Linked DNA regions of Homo sapiens: region 2 is linked to region 1. The links come from fine-mapping of genetic effects on gene expression. Tissue or cell type: skeletal muscle. Region 1 holds a variant in brackets; the other region holds the start of a gene. All regions are shown on one strand. Distances are from middle to middle.

Region 1 (8,256 bases):
TGTAGGATTCCTGGGCAGTGGGGCTGGTAGCCGGTGGGAGAGCAGAACTAGGATGGGTAGGGCTCTGGAGCTCAGATTTGAGCACAGCGGGTGACATGATGGTATACGACTGGTCATGGGGCCAGACAGGAGAACAGGGCTCAGTGTCTGCCCATGCCACCCCTGCCGCCTGCCTGCCTCCCCGGGATACATACCCACAGGGCTCACTCACCTGGCTGTTGGCAGCAGTGCCCTGGCTACTGCTCGCCTCGGCTGATTGTTGGTAGATGCCAGGAGCAGCACCAGGCTGGGCGCGAGAGAAAGCCTGCATCGACACAGAGTCGGCCCCAGGCTCTAGGGAGGCCTCGGGACCTGTAAGGAGGGACAGGGCAGGGACAATGCCTGTGAATAATGGGGCCGGGGACTTTATGCCTGCTGGCCCCCACCACAGCTGCAGAGAGAGATGCTGGGGCTCACCTGCTCCAGTGGGATCCCCTTTGGTTCCAGTGATGCCAGGGCCCTTGGTGCCCTTGAGGTAGCCATGGGCATAGAGGGAAGACTCTGTGCCCTGGCTGTTGCCATAGCCCTCATCCTGTTGGTAGTAGCTGTAGTCGACCGGCGGCTCCTCGGAGGTGGCCCAGGTACCCTCCCCACCTTGGGAGGCCTGAAGGGCAGGTGGGAGGGGTTCATTAGAACAGGAAGGTGTGGGGGTGGGGGGTGGGGAACCTGCTAGAAGCATCTGTCCCACACGTGGGGCTAGTATTTCTACCTGACAGACAAAGCATGCAGCCTTAAGACAAGTGGAAAGCGAGGGTTGCCTGGCCACAAGAGAACAAATAGGCCAGTGGCAAACACAAGACAGAAAAACAGATGAACGCCAAAATGTTCCAGGGCTGATTCTGCTGATTCTGCTGTGTGTGGCGTGTGTGTTGGGTGTCAGGCCAAGGAAGACACCATCTTCTTACTTCTTTATTCTCTTCTCCCAATTTTCTCTCAACCACTTATACGTTATTTTTATTCAGGAACATATGATACGTGTATATCATATATGTATATATTACATATAAGGATATGTGTATATCATACCTATTCAGGACAATAAAAACCCCACCAAACAGCACAGAATGCCAGGCACAATGGCGTCGTACATGAGCGCATGGGAGGCAATTGGGAAGAAAGCTGCGGTGATGATGAAGGGGAATGTCCCAGGGGGTCTAGAGAGCCAGGAGCAAGGTAGAATAGCCATGCCAGCTACTGGGAGAGGGTTTTGCATCCATGGATAGCAAGCCAGCCTTCCTGCTTCAGAGAGGGTGCAGGAGGGTTGAGAAAGCCCAGGTCTCAGGACGCTGGGAGGCACAAGGGGTCTGAGTACCTGTGAGATGGCCCACTGGGCCGCAGCAATGGCAGTGCTGGCCACAGAGGCAGCACTGATGCGACTGCCTTCATTGGAGGCCATGTCCCTGAGGAGGATGTTAGAGACTGGGAGTGAGATAGGAGGCCCCAAGCGGTAGGGGGGAGTGGGAGGGTGGGGAGGGGAAGGGTGGGAAGGCACACAGGTGGGGCCCTGACCTCTTAGAACCCTTGGCAAACTCAACATTGATGGTCTTGCCGTCGATAGTGAGTGGTGGGTGCAGGGCCTGCAGGATCTGCAGCAGCTGGGCTGCCTCCTGTGGGAGGAGGGGAGGCAGGGACAGAAGGGTCAGGCCCGGGGAGGCCCCCGGCTCCATTGCCCGATTTCCAGGCTGGCAGCCGCGGTGGGAGGCTGGGGAAAAGGACCCTCGTCTCCACCCCGGGGGCCGGGACCCTGGCTGCCCGGCCCCCAACTGTGCCGCCCTCACCACGATGGTGGAGAGCTGGATGAAGGCAAAGCCGCGGTTCAGTTGGGTCTGCTTGTCCTTTATGACGCGCACGTTGGAGGAGGACAGCACCGCGTAGGGTGCCAGGGCCCCCAGGATGGAATCCATGGTGCTGTGTGGGTTCAGGTTGCGCAAAATGATGGCTGTGGGAAGGGGCCCAATGTTAGAGGACACCCCTGGCACTCTTGCCAGCCCTGCCCTTCAATGCCCCCACTGCTCCCTTTCCTCTGCCCCCACTCACTCCGTGCCTTTGCAACTGCCGCTTCCCTCACTGCTTCCTCCAGGATCAACTCTGCTTGGCGGTCCAGGTGCCAGCCTGGCTGCCTGTCTGCTGAGAACCTTCCCGACACACCCCCAAAGTCAGGTGGGATGTTGCCACTCCCCCTGTTCTCCCTACATCAAATGTCTATCCCCGCACCAAGTGGAGATTCCATGAGGATGAGGTCCTGCTCACTGCCATTTCTCTGGTCTTGGTGAGCCCAGCCCGACACCCTAGGGCACAGAGGAAGAAGGAACAACTGACTCACTGTCATTGGCGTTCTCTGAGCTTGGCTCCGAGCCCTGTGACAGGGCTTGGGAGGCCAGGACTCCCTGGGCCTGGTAGGGCTGCGGCAGGGGAAGCAGGCCCTGGCTCAGCTCCCGGCCACCCAGTGGCAGTGTCTGCTGATCCAGCCTCGTGCCGAGGGGCAGCTTCTGCTCTGCCTCTGTCAGGGGCAGTGGGAGACAGGCTGGTGATAAGGGGAAGGCTCCACGACTGGTCACCCTCCTCCCTATACCAAGCCCTGAGCACAGACCCCTCACCCTTCCCTTCTCCCCAACCGCTCCGCCCTGGAGAGCACGAGAGGTAGGTGGGCCTCACCTGACTTGGGCACGCCACATTTGAAGCACTTCTCTCGGCGTTTGAAGTTCTGGACGCCACACTGTGAGGCACAGGCCAGGCCGTCAGAGGGAGCAGGGATTTCCCACTGCACCCTCCAAACTTGGATGAAGAGATCTCCCAGGGACCCCGCAGTGCCCCAGGAAGGAAAGCCCCTAGGCAATGGTGGCAGGTGCCTTCTGAACCTTCTGATGTTGTTCTCAGTACTGTGCATCTTCCCTTTCCAGACTCTCATTTGTCCTCTGTGCCAACCCACTCAGCTCAGGAATAAACAACTCCCCCATTTGGTACAACAACTCCCTCCTCTCCTTCCTCTGCCTTCTTAAGGCCACCAACTCCCAGGACTGTTCCCCGCCTCAGGTATTCAATCCCTTTATTAGGTTCCTCTCCCTGAAACTTGCTCCTCTATTCAGAAACCTTTCAGTGTTTCAGCCCTAGAAGTCAGTAGCCAGACCCGCACCCCTCCTCTTAGCTCTAGGACTGGGTTGGATCCTGCTACGCTTGAGAAATTTTCCTTGAATGTTCCAGCATCTGGAGACCCAGCTTCTACCACACTCCATCTCTGTTCCAGACTCAGGTACTAAGCACCACTCCTGGGCCAGGCCCTGCTGCACATGGCCAGAACATGGTCTCTGCCCTCATGGCCTAATAGCACAGGGGCAGATGCAGCATGAAGAGGGGCAGGTCGGTCTGCATGGACCATCCAGCAGGGGCTCGGGGAGGGAAATGGGCTGGGGGTGGGGTGCCATTTACTCGGCAGGGACAGTCCCTGCACAGAAGCAGGGAGGTTTGACCTGGGATGCCCAGAAGTTTCATTTTGTTAAGCCTTGCTGGGGAGGGATTGTTATCGGAGGGAACAATGGACTTTCCGAAACTGGTGTGGGAGAGTAAGGGGAGAAGCAAAAGCCAAGGCCGGGGAAGGAAGCCAGTTAGGTAATGGAGGATCTTATGCTTAAGCTGAGCTGGGGCTGGTTAAGCAGAGGAGGAGAGGCGTGGGTAGTCAGAGGTGGTTTTGAGGAATGTTCCAGGTGAGGGCGTGGGAGAAAGAGGACAAGAGGCCAGCATACCAGAGAGGGCTCCACAGTGAGTGGGTGAGAGCGTGACGATTGGCATGAGCAGCGGGAATGGCGAGGGAGGGAAGGTGGCGTTTCTGTGATGGAAGTGACAGGACCTGGTGGCCAACAGGATGCAGGGGAGGGGAAGGAGTTCAAGAGAATTCCCTGGTTTTGGGCTGGGCGTGGTGGCTCACGCCTGTAATCCCAGCACTTTGGGAGGCTGAGGCGTGAGGACTGCTTGAGCTCAGGAGTTCAAGACCAGCCTGGCAAACATGACGAAACCCTGTCTCTACCAAAAAAAATAAAAATAAAAAGGCAAAAATTAGTGGGTGTGGTGGCATGCGCCTGTGGTCCCAGCTACTCTGGAGGCTGATGGCTTGAGCGCTGGAGACAGAGGTTGCAGTGAGCCCAGATTGCTGCACTCCAGCCTGGGCGACAGAGCCAGATCCTGTCTCAAAAAAAAAAAAAAGAGAATTCCCTGGTTTTGAGGCTATCTGGAAACACAGGAAGGAGTTCCACTGTCACTTTGTCTTTATCTCTCCAGAAATGTTAAGCACCAATCCTCTGATGGGACTTTTTTTTTTAAAACAGATGCACCACTCTCCCTGACTAGGCAGAGTACTTCCTGGGGAGAGGGTTGGGGCCTCTACAAACTGTGGAATCACAATGCTGGCCCCAGGGCAGACCTGAAGCCACTGTGGCATCCAAGTCCCTGTGATCAGGAGCAAGGCACAGGGCACAGCTAAAGGTTCACCCATGGTTCCACCTCTCTGAGCCTCAGCTTCCCCTCAGGGAAGACAGAGGTGACTACAAAACCACAGCCTCCAGTTTCAGGTTTGACTTGGCCTGGTCAGAGTGGCCTTCAGGCTTGAGCTACCTGCTATGGGCTCTCAGAACGCTCTGTGCTTTTCTTTCATGATTACAGTTAACAATTCGACTGTGTTAAATGTGGGCCAGGCACTGTTCTGAGTGTTACTCTCTCATTAACACAGCTGAATCCTCCCAACCACCTTTTGGGAGAGGTGTCATTAATATTCACATTTTAGAGATGGGGAAAGTGAGGCAAAGAGAGGCTAAGCACCTTGGCCAAAATCAAGGCCGATCTGG[G/C]ATAGTCTCATTTCAGCCAGTCTGGCTCTGAAGCCCACATTCTCCACACCACCACTTCAAGTCTACACTGTCACTAATTCATCATCCACGTATATATTTCCTTAAAGTCTACTGGAACTCCAGGCAAGACTGCATTTTAGGAGGACAGAGCCTGCACCAAGTGAACGCTCACTACACATTTGTATATGGCTGGCTAGGAATGGTGACTACTCAAGCTGAGCTAGCAAGGGATAGAGAATGAGAGAGAGAGAGAGAGAGAGAGAGAGAGACAGAGGGAGAGGAGAGATTGGGGGAGGGGGAGAGATGGAGGGAGAAAGAGCGGGAGAGGAAGGGAGAGATCGCCGCCACTGCTGTTGCTGTCTCTGTCCATGACAACTGCTGCCCACCGCCCCTGTACCTTATTGCACAGCCAGTCCTCATTGATCTTGGGCTTGGGGTCACTGTAGTGCATCGACACCTTCTGGCCCAGGATGTTGAGGGAGTGCTGCGGGAAAAAGCAGAGCACAGTGAGGTCCAGGCAGCAGTGCCCCACGCACCGTTTCAGCATAGGAGAAGAGAGTGAGCGAGCCCTTCAGCTGGATGGATGAGGGACAGGGAACGGAGGGAGGTCGGAGAGCGGATGGAGGGAAGAAGGGAGGTAGGGAGGGAAAGCGCCACAGCTCTCGGGCGCAGCTGTTTGCTGCTCTGCCGGGCACACGCACGCACACATGTGAACACACACCACCAGGCACACAGTGTTCGGCTGACCGACGCTTGCCGGACAGTGGGGAGAAACCCCCACTCGGCCCTGACACTGCCAGGCCACACCCAGGGCCAGGACTACACAGGCTACACTTGGGGGGTGAGGGGAGACAGGGAGGGGGAGGGAGAGGGGAGAAAAAGAGAAAGAGAGCGCAGGTGCGCTAGTGCTGGAGAAGGGGAAAAAGAAAGAGCCATTTCGAACAGATGGAAGTTTCTGCCATGAGGCCGTCTTCCCATGGATGGCTGGGTCCTGGGCCCATGGCACTAGCCTACCAACCCCGAGGAGACGGCCCCAGGGCTGCCTCTGCCGGGATCCCCCATTCTACCACCTCTGCCCCTTCCTCCCCTGAAACTGCTCTCCAGTGCCCTACACCAGGGATCTGGGCAGGGGTGGGTGACCAGGCAGATCTTTGGGTCTCGGAGGTCCCAAAGCTGCTGAGTTGGGATCCCGTGCCAGGCTTGGGGGACAGGCTCCCCCCAGGGCTGACTGTGCACAGGTCCTTGCCGAGAAGACAGAGCTGCCTGAGGTGGTGCCTCCTGCGAGTGTGGAGATGTGATAGGAAGGGTAGGGGCGGCGAAGTGAGGCCAGGGTGTCGATAAAACTATCATACTCGACGGGAACTTGAGATCAACAGAGCAGTGCTGTCCCCTTGCATGAAAATCAAAGGGCCAAATTCACATGCAGGGATGGGGCTGACAAAATGAGTCTTGCTAGTGACTGTGCCAATAGCTAAGCTCCTCACTGGCAGGACTTCCAGTGGTCCTGAGGGTGGAATGAGGTCCTGGCTCTGGCTAACCCCAGAGAGGGGTGCCCCCCCCACCAGCCCCGGGGGAGTGGGAAGCTAGGTGAAAGAACCCACCCTGGCAGCTCTTTCTCTGAACGCTCAGCTGGGAGAGGTGAAGGGGCAGCACTAGTGCCTGGTGGTAGGAAGGGGCCAGTGGTGAGTGTGGGCTCTGGATGAGAAGCCCAGTGGGGTAGCGAGAGATGGGAAGAGGAGATAGTGAGGGTCAGGAAGGGGAGAGAGGGGGCGGGGGGATGGGACACAGGGCCACAGGGCAGGGAACTGTGTCCATAAGAATCAGGCGATGGGGAGCGCTCGATTACAAAGTAGTATTTGTTTGGGGGGGGGTTCAAGTGCGGCAAAGCAACCTGATTGGCTTCCATCCATCGTGTAGCGTCCTGCAAGTGACTAAACTCGACGAAGGCGAAGCCCCGGCTCTGACCTGGAGACAGCATTCAGATACAGACGCAGTGGGTTAGTCAACAGCTTTGGACACACGGCGTTCCCGGGGGCGGGACCCGAGGGGAGAGGACGGGGGGCAGAGAGGGAAAGGGGAAGAGGAAAAAGGAAGAAAGAGAAAGAGGCAATCAGAGAGAGAAAGACTAGCGGGCGTGGGGGGCAAGGTAGATGGCCAGGTGGGGCAGGGAAGGTGGAGGGAGAAAAACAGAGGCCAGAGGTCGGTAGGGGGAGAGACACACACACCAACTGGGAAGAGAGAGATGGGGCTCGGGCAGACCTGCCCAGCCAGCCTGGGGTGACAGAGACGGAGAGAAGCAGCTGGGAGGGAAAGAATACGAGAGATCTGCCTCCAAAGAAGGAGGGAGGGGATGGTGGGCAGGCTGCTGGCTCCACACAAGCCACAATACGTAACTCCAGGGCGGGCCCAGCTCAAGGCCAGGGGTGCCCAGGAGGGGTCCTGTAACAGGTGTTGAATCACAGGAGCAAAAGAGAAGCTGGGCCAGGCTGCTCTGCGAGGCTAGGAAGGCTCTTGGCCCATTGGAAACCAGGGGCGGTTAAAGACACGACCTCATCTCAGCCTCACCGCAGCGCAGGGGAGGCGGGCCTCGCTAGGGAGCCACCTCAGGGCCACAGGGTGGAGACTACAGCCACAAACAGTCCAGGTTCCCCTGGACAAAAGGAGAATGGTGGCCAGGATTGGCCAGGAGGACCTTAGAGGTAAGAATCAATGGGTGCCTGGGAGAAGCGCCCAGGGCCATTGAGAAGGCCGCACCTGGAACACCTCCTTGTGGAGAGAGAGACCCAGAAGCTGTCCGTGTGTGGTGTAGTTGGGGTGATGCAGAGCAAGACCTACATGCAACCAAGATTCCAGGCTTGGGAAAGGGATTCAGGGTTGAGGCCTCAGGATAGCATGTCCTTTAGAGGCAGATACATGGGGAGGGCTTGGATGAGAGGGGCTTGGGGGGGCATGCTTAATGTTCAAAAGAATAACCGTTAGGATGCATAGGAGGATGGAATGAATAATATAGTTGGGGGGGGCAGAGAGAGAGAAAGAGAGAGAGGGAGAAAGAGAGAGAGAGAGAGAGAGAGAGAGAGAGAGAGAGAGAGAGAGATGGAGGTGTGGGGAGGAGAGACTGAGAGATGGAGAGAGAAGCCCAGGCAGAGTGAGGCCCCACTGTGCCTGCCTTGGGGAGCCTGGGCAGAGGTCCTGTAGAGACAACTCCCCCCACCACCACCCTGCTAACCTCAGGCCAGCTCCAAGCAGCCTGCAAGAGGGAGGGAGGGAGGGAACAGGCGAGGCCAGGAAGTCCTGGCTGTTCCTTGGGATGTGTCCTTGGATAAGAGCCATCCCCTGCTTCCCCCTTGGGACACACATGTGGGACCACCACGTCAGAGCTACT
Region 2 (8,000 bases), 32 kb after region 1:
CACTTTGGGAGGCCAAGATGGGAGGATCACCTGAAGTCGAGAGTTCGAGACCAGCCTGACCAGCATGGAGAAACCCCATCTCTACTAAAAATACAAAATTAGCCAGGCGTGGTGGCACATGCCTGAAATCCCAGCTATGTGGGAGGCTAAGGCAGGAGAATCGCTTGAAACCGGGAGGCAGAGGTTGTGGTCAGCCAAGACTGCGCCATTGCACTCCAGCCTGGGCAACAAGAGTGAAACTCTTTCTCAAAACAAAGAAACAAAACAAAACAAAACAAACAAACAAAAAAAAACAGCACTGTTGGCCAGTTACAGCGGCTCATGCCTTTAATCCCAGCACTTTGGGAGGCCAAGGGAGGAGAATTGCCTGAGCCCAGGAGTTTGAGACCAGCCTGGGCAACATAGAGACACCCTGTCTCAAAACAAAAAACAAAAAACAAAAAAAACCTCCCACTCTGAGTAATACAAAGTTCAGGAAACAAAACGAAGACTGTGGCACCATGCCATGTGTGTCAACTGAAAACACAGTCACTCAAAACAACACTTCATATTTTCATTTTCTATGAAAATGTATCTATATGATACATTTATGTATGTATTTATATGATACATGTATCTATATGATACATTTATATGAAAATGATCTATATGATAAATCTATGATACATTTTCTATGATATGTATCATAGAAGGATACATTTTCTATGATATGTATCATAGAAGGATACATTTTCTATGATATGTATCATAGAAGGATACATTTTCTATGATATGTATCATAGAAGGATACATTTTCTATGATATGTATCATAGAAGGATACATTTTCTATGATATGTATCATAGAAGGATACATTTTCTATGATATGTATCATAGAAGGATACATTTTCTATGATATGTATCATAGAAGGATACATTTTCTATGATATGTATCATAGAAGGATACATTTTCTATGATATGTATCATAGAAGGATACATTTTCTATGATATGTATCATAGAAGGATACATTTTCTATGATATGTATCATAGAAGGATACATATCAAACACGACAGAGCAGCTGCCCACAGAGGTGGGAATTGGGAATAAAAATGAAAAAATAAACATGACAAGAGGAAGCCTTTTGCTGACCTATGACAGAAACCTACCTTGAACTGGAAAGTATGATGAACTCAAACCTCTGCACTTGAGGGCTTTTAAAAGTCAATGGTTTTACTTGGTAATAAAGTTTGAACAAAGTATGTATGTCAGCTACTCAAATTCAGAAATGGCCACAGAGCACTTCTAGTGAATACCGTCCAAAATCAAATGTCTTTCAAAAAACATTTCTAATGAAAGCCAAGACTGAATAACACTAGGTGATGACCTTATCTCAAATTTGGGCTCACTTTTCAGAAAACAAAATATTACAATTCTACATTTTTAAAAGGAGTGGTGGTAGAAGAAACACTTCGTAAAACATTTTAAAAATTATTTTCTCTTTTTATAAAGCTATTGACTCTTGAGTCTTAATAGAGGCTTTCTGAGAGAGTTAGGTCTGCTTTTCTAGGCAATCTTCAAGTGTCATGGCTGGGTCACCTGCCTCGGAATCACCTGGATGGCGAGGGATCACTGAATTTTACTCAGGATTTCTGTATTTTACCCAGTGTTCCAGCTATTCCTTGTTCATAGCAGAGCTGAAGAAATAACTGTCTGAGAGTATCCATTCCCAGCAAGTATCATGCCAACTGTAGCCCATACTGTCCCTGGAGTCTTCCACTATCTGACCTGGCTTGTCCCCTAGTGGTCCCGGGCAAATCCTGACTCTGATGGTGCCATTCCCACCCATCCCTCATACCCCAGGCTATAGCCCCAACCTCAACCTCCCACCCGTTAACTGCATAGCGTCCCTGTGACACCCTGAGTACTGAGAAGGATGCAATCTCATGTCTCATTCATCACTGCACTATCAGAGCCTAGCACAGGTCCTGGCTCACAACAGGTGCCAAACACCTGTCTGCTGAAAAGAAACCCATCATCTGCTATGCTGTTTCCTCTACCCAGAAGCCCCATCCTAGCACCTTCTTGGATCAATTCTCACATAGACGCAAGCCTAGGCTGTCTGGGAAGCTGAGAACAGATAACTCACCGTCTTTCATACTCCATGTCCTGATAGGGCCTTCGGGGGCTGCTGGGGCCCCTCCTCAGCCGCTGGCTCCGTTTCACTTCCCAGCCACCCCCGCTGCTGCTACCATGATCTGCCAGCCTGGGTGATGCTTCCTGCAGGGACTCTGGGGAGAGTGGAGGGAAGAAAGGGGTCAAAACTGTTGGGACTGAGAGGGCCTCCTTGAGAAACTCTTATTGTCAAGGCTCTCCGCTGCCCCTTAGCCCAGGGACATTGTCTTCCAGCTCCCAGCACTCCTGTGCATCACAGTATGAAGGTAGCCCCTACTTGGCCTGCTCCTCCCTTTCCCCGCAAACATAAGGCTAGAGCCCACTGCCCTAGAAAACAGCAAGGACTTCAGCAGACAGGGGGCATCTTGCAGAGAGACCTGGCGGGGCCACCCACAGTGTGATCAGGGCTTTGCCACCTAAGACAGGTAGACAAATTCAAGCCTGGGGCTGCATCCCAGGGTGGGGGTAGGGGACTCTCAGGGCTGAAAGTCTTGCCTGAGATTCAGCACATCAGACAAGACTTCACAACAATGGGGGCCCCAGGCTCCTTCCACAGGCCCCAAGGGACCATCTCATCCTCCCAACAAGCTGCTGGCTGTCCCCTATAAGGCAGCAAAAGACCATGAAAGGCTCTTGGGGGGGTGTGTGAAGGGGCGAACTTGGCGACGAGACAGCTGCCACCTCCCTGGGCTCCTGGCCAACACAGCCTTGGCCCTCACACAGCAACTGGCTCAGCCCTGAGCCCTGTCTCTTATGTGCAGCCCGGTCCTAAGGTGGTTCCCTCCCCAGGGCTCAAGCCCGGTTTCCAGAGGCAAAAGGGGCCCTTTTGGAGGCTGTTCTGAACCACTGTGCTCTTCTATTGGGATGGAGCAGCAGCCACTTCATCCAACCCTCAGGGCTGTGGTGAGAACTCAGGGAGTCCTGAGAACCCTGTGACCCAGCCAGAGGTCAGGATGAATCCCAGATCTTCAGGCCCCACCCTCTGAATAAGAAGCAGGTAAAGCCAGGCAATAATAGCACCTGCTCAACACTAGGTTGCTGCCACACCTTTGCTCTATGCTCGTGCACACACATACACAGACAAACACACTCCAATTTTCTCTTCCTCCTCAAGCCACAGGGAACCCGAGTTACCTGCTCCCAGGTGGGCAAGAGTTAGAATCACACAGAGGCACTGGCGTCTGAGAGCACAAAAACCTTCAAGAGACTCTGGCAAAGGGGCCAGAGTCACACAGTAACATCCACCACAGCCAAGGGCCAGTCACAGACACGAGCCCCAAATAACTACGGGCCCACATCACAGAAGGAACACACAGTAAGGACCACAATTACACAGTGGGTCCCCTTTCCATGGATGAGCGTCAGTGTCACAGATACAAACTCCCCAAAAGAAGGGGCAATGAGTCACACACACATTCCCTGCATGCCCCTTCCCACCCAATAAGTGGGTTAGGGTCAATCAAAAGACAGTCGTCCCCCAAGCCCCGCCCCATGGATAAGGATCAGAGTCACAGACCGCCCCCCCTCAAAGGGTAAAGACCAGAGTCACATCCCCCCTCCGATCCCCCAGGAATAGAGACCAGAACCACAGAATATTTCCCCATGGACCGATAAACACCAGAGTAACACAGAGCAGCATCCCCTCTCCTATGCACAAACTCAAAGTCGCAGACAACCGCTTCCCCACTGATAAACTTCGATGTAGCCGACACAGTGATCCACAGTAGCCCACTCCCATCCGTCCCTCCCTTCCCCCAACCCGCATGCACCCATCCCATGTCCCAGTCGCGCACGCGCCTTTGCTCACACCAAAAAAAAAAAAAAAAAAAAAAAAAACCAAAAAAAAAAAAACCCTCCCGGGTTGAGACATTGCACCAACCCCTCCGTTCCGCGCATCTCCCCCGACCCGAAGTCCGCCCTCGCGCCTCCTCTACGTCCCCGCCCCGGGCCCCTTACCTCCGCCCCCACGACCAGCGTCGACGCTCACCTTCTCGGCCCGGGCTGTCAAGGAAGGGCTCCCAGACATCACCTCTGCCCGCCGCCACCTCCTCCAACTCTCCCAGCTCAGCCGGAGCCGGAGCGCGCAACAACCAAGTCCGAGACTGGAGGCAGATCGGGGGGAGGGGAGAAGCGCCAAGCGCGCTGCCCTCCCAGGGAAACTCACTGCCGCCTACTCCCAGCCGGCCACAGTCACCAGCTCAAAATGGCGACGACGAGAAGGGAGTCGGCGCTCCGACCACCATCCACCTACTAAGGAAGCGCGCTCTGGCCGGCCCCGGCGATTGGTCACCGCCCGCTAGGGGACAGCCCTGGCCTCCTCTGATTGGCAAGCGCTGGCCACCTCCCCACACCCCTTGCGAACGCTCCCCTAGTGGAGAAAAGGAGTAGCTATTAGCCAATTCGGCAGGGCCCGCTTTTTAGAAGCTTGATTTCCTTTGAAGATGAAAGACTAGCGGAAGCTCTGCCTCTTTCCCCAGTGGGCGAGGGAACTCGGGGCGATTGGCTGGGAACTGTATCCACCCAAATGTCACCGATTTCTTCCTATGCAGGAAATGAGCAGACCCATCAATAAGAAATTTCTCAGCCTGGCCGAAAATGGTTGGCCCCACGAAGCCACGACAACTGGAGGCAAAGAGGGTTGCTCAACGCCCCGCCTCATTGGAAAACCAAATCAGATCTGGGACCTATATAGCGTGGCGGAGGCGGGGCGATGATTGTCGCGCTCGCACCCACTGCAGCTGCGCACAGTCGCATTTCTTTCCCCGCCCCTGAGACCCTGCAGCACCATCTGTCATGGCGGCTGGGCTGTTTGGTTTGAGCGCTCGCCGTCTTTTGGCGGCAGCGGCGACGCGAGGGCTCCCGGCCGCCCGCGTCCGCTGGGAATCTAGCTTCTCCAGGACTGTGGTCGCCCCGTCCGCTGTGGCGGGAAAGCGGCCCCCAGAACCGACCACACCGTGGCAAGAGGACCCAGAACCCGAGGACGAAAACTTGTATGAGAAGGTGAGAGGCGGGGGGGGGGGGGGGGGTAGTGGGGACGGAACCCCGAAGGGGTCAGTCCGGGATCGGCAGATGGGGCGCTGTAGAGGACGTTCTTAGGCAGTAGAGGACTGCGCGGCCGGCGAAAGCCTAGAAGACTTGGGAATTTTGCCTACCTTGTGTTCCTCCTTTGTCTCTCGGTATCTTCGTTCCAGGGCCAGAGGCAGGATTGGTTTTATTTTGCAGACAGAAATCACACCTCAAGTGGACAGCGCTCAAAACACGTTAGAAGCAGTATAGTACAACGATAATACTAAACACCGATATGGCACTTGCTCGTTGCCGTCTGCATTCTTTTTTTTTTTTTTATAGGGACGAGATCTCGCTATGTTGCCCAGGCTGGTCTCGAACTCCTGGCTCAAGCGATCCTCTCGCCTCGGCCTCCCAAGGTGCTGGGATTACAGGCATGAGCCACCGCTCCGGGCCCCGTCTGTGTTCTAAACACTTGACATGCATTAGCTCATCTTATACTCGAAACAAACCCCATTTCGAGGTGGGCTCTATTATTATACTCATCCTACAGATGAGGAAACTGAGGCACAGAGATGTTAAGTGGATTGCCCTAGCTCACATAACTGAATACATGGTGGAGGTGGAACTGGTATTTGAATTTAGGGCTACCAGGTCTGCTGTGCTGTATTAATAGCAGACGCTGTGAAATCAGGCAGCACTGACGGTTACCCACCCGTGTGATCTTGGTAGCATAAACCCTTGGTGCCTCAGTTTCTTTGTCTGTAAGATGGGAACAGTAATAGGACACCTTCTAAAAAATAGGACACCCCACCTGCCTCATGTAATTAAATGAGTAAAAATGGTCAGAACAGCAGCTGGCACTTCGTAAGTATGTACTCAGCACTAGAATGTGTTTATTATTGCCATGTTTCACCTCACTGAGATATTGTGAGGTGTTTCTATGTGAAAAGACTGGCACATAATAAGTACTTCATCAATACTAACCTCTGGTTAAGGGGCTTGGATATATAGGATGCTTGTTCATTCTGTAAATATGTATTGAGGGCCTGCTGTATGCCAGGCTCAGTTCAGGGCCCTGGGGATACAGCAGTGTGGAAATCAGACAAAGCCCATGCTCTCATAGAGCTTACATGATAGTGGGGAAGACAGAAAATAAACAGTAAAATATTAGAAAACAATAATACAAAGTAGTATAATAGATAATATAACATGAGAATGTATGATATACAGAGAATGGGGAAAGTATGCTACTTAGGTAAACATAGACTAGAAAGAGACAGAAGGAAGAGAGGATGTGAAGACAAAGTTAAGCAAGATAAGTGGATAGAGAATGACTTGGGTGTAGGGGGCTATTTCATTAGCTTGAGCTATAAGAAATTGCCAGTATTCAACCATTTGTGACCTATAAAAATAGCAGTTTCCTATGCTTCAACTTTGAAAGACAAGGTAACTAGGGAGTGCCTCCTGAAGGAAGTGGTGATGAATCTAAAACCTTGAATGAGGAGACAGATCCAGCCATGACTAGAGCTGGAAGAAAGGCTTTCCAGGCAGAGAGAGCAGCAAGTGCAGTGGCCCTGCAGTGGGAAGGAGCTTGACATATCCCAAGAATGGAAACAGAGGAATTTAGTGAGAGGGGCACATGGAGACCAAGTTATGCAGGGCCAGAATAAGGCTTTGTGGAGCAGCAGGAAGCCCTCATTGACCTCTATTTCTCCACAGAACCCAGACTCCCATGGTTATGACAAGGACCCCGTTTTGGACGTCTGGAACATGCGACTTGTCTTCTTCTTTGGCGTCTCCATCATCCTGGTCCTTGGCAGCACCTTTGTGGCCTATCTGCCTGACTACAGGTGCACAGGGTGTCCAAGAGCGTGGGATGGGTAAGAGGCAGAGGCAGGGATGGAGGTTGAAGGGGATTCTGCCAGGAGTTTTGTTCCTGCACCATTGGGAATGGGGAGCTGAGATGAGGGATTGGTATCAGTTGAGGCTCCCTCACGTCTACCCCTGCTATTTGCACTACCAGGATGAAAGAGTGGTCCCGCCGCGAAGCTGAGAGGCTTGTGAAATACCGAGAGGCCAATGGCCTTCCCATCATGGAATCCAACTGCTTCGACCCCAGCAAGATCCAGCTGCCAGAGGATGAGTGACCAGTTGCTAAGTGGGGCTCAAGAAGCACCGCCTTCCCCACCCCCTGCCTGCCATTCTGACCTCTTCTCAGAGCACCTAATTAAAGGGGCTGAAAGTCTGACTCGCTAGTGTTGATTGTGTTGTGAAGGGGATATGGGATGGGGGTGTCAAAAGCTTTAAAAGGGCTGCTGCAACCTTCCCTGGGTGTTCTGGCTGTATATTGCTGTGTAGCAAACACCTAAAAACTTAGTGGCTTAAAACCACAATTCAGTCTTCTCTTTCATGGCCCTGTGGGTTGACTGGGCTCAGTAAGGTGGCTCTTCTAGGGGTCTCAGGTAGTTGTAGTTAGATGGTGGCTGGGACTGGAGTCATCTGAAGGCTCAACTGGGCTGGGTATCTAAGATGGCTTCTTCACTCACATGTCTGGCACTTCAGTCCTCTTCCATATGGCCTCTCTCCAGCAGAACAGCCTTGACTTTTTTTTTTTTTTTTTTTTTGAGATGGAGCCTTGCTCTGTCACCCAGGCTAGAGTGCAGTGGCACAATCTCTGCTCACTGCAATCTCCACCTCCCGGGTTCAAGCGATTCTCCTGCCTCAGCCTCCAGAGTAGCTGGGACTACAGGTGCCCGCCACCATACCTGGCTAATTTTTGTATTTTTAGTGGAGACAGGGTTTCACCATGTTGGCCAGGATGGTCTCAATCTCCTGACC

Evidence for each region. PIP is the estimated chance that this variant, and not a neighbour inherited with it, causes the effect.
Region 2: NDUFB11 starts here. The variant in region 1 is fine-mapped to the expression of NDUFB11 in skeletal muscle (GTEx, PIP above 0.99).

Annotation. Positions count from the first base shown.
Region 1 is chrX:47,173,602-47,181,857 of GRCh38, reverse strand. It overlaps RBM10 (RNA binding motif protein 10), which reads right to left. Exons shown (of 24, transcript NM_005676.5): 6 at 6,766-6,839; 7 at 5,272-5,358; 8 at 2,695-2,755; 9 at 2,363-2,539; 10 at 1,818-1,978; 11 at 1,549-1,646; 12 at 1,352-1,439; 13 at 457-643; 14 at 212-351; 15 at 1-109. Among named protein-coding and RNA genes, the nearest start is that of UBA1, 16 kb to the left of the region's middle. RefSeq lists an enhancer at 2,135-3,334. The variant G/C (reference allele first, on the strand shown) is at 4,875.
Region 2 is chrX:47,141,626-47,149,625 of GRCh38, reverse strand. NDUFB11 (NADH:ubiquinone oxidoreductase subunit B11) reads left to right here and starts at 4,924. Exons shown (of 3, transcript NM_001135998.3): 1 at 4,924-5,153; 2 at 6,882-7,012; 3 at 7,186-7,410. The coding sequence starts at 4,947. The coding sequence ends at 7,309. RBM10 (RNA binding motif protein 10) reads right to left here and starts at 4,405. Exons shown (of 24, transcript NM_005676.5): 1 at 4,141-4,405; 2 at 2,128-2,269. The coding sequence starts at 2,144. RefSeq lists an enhancer at 4,112-4,381.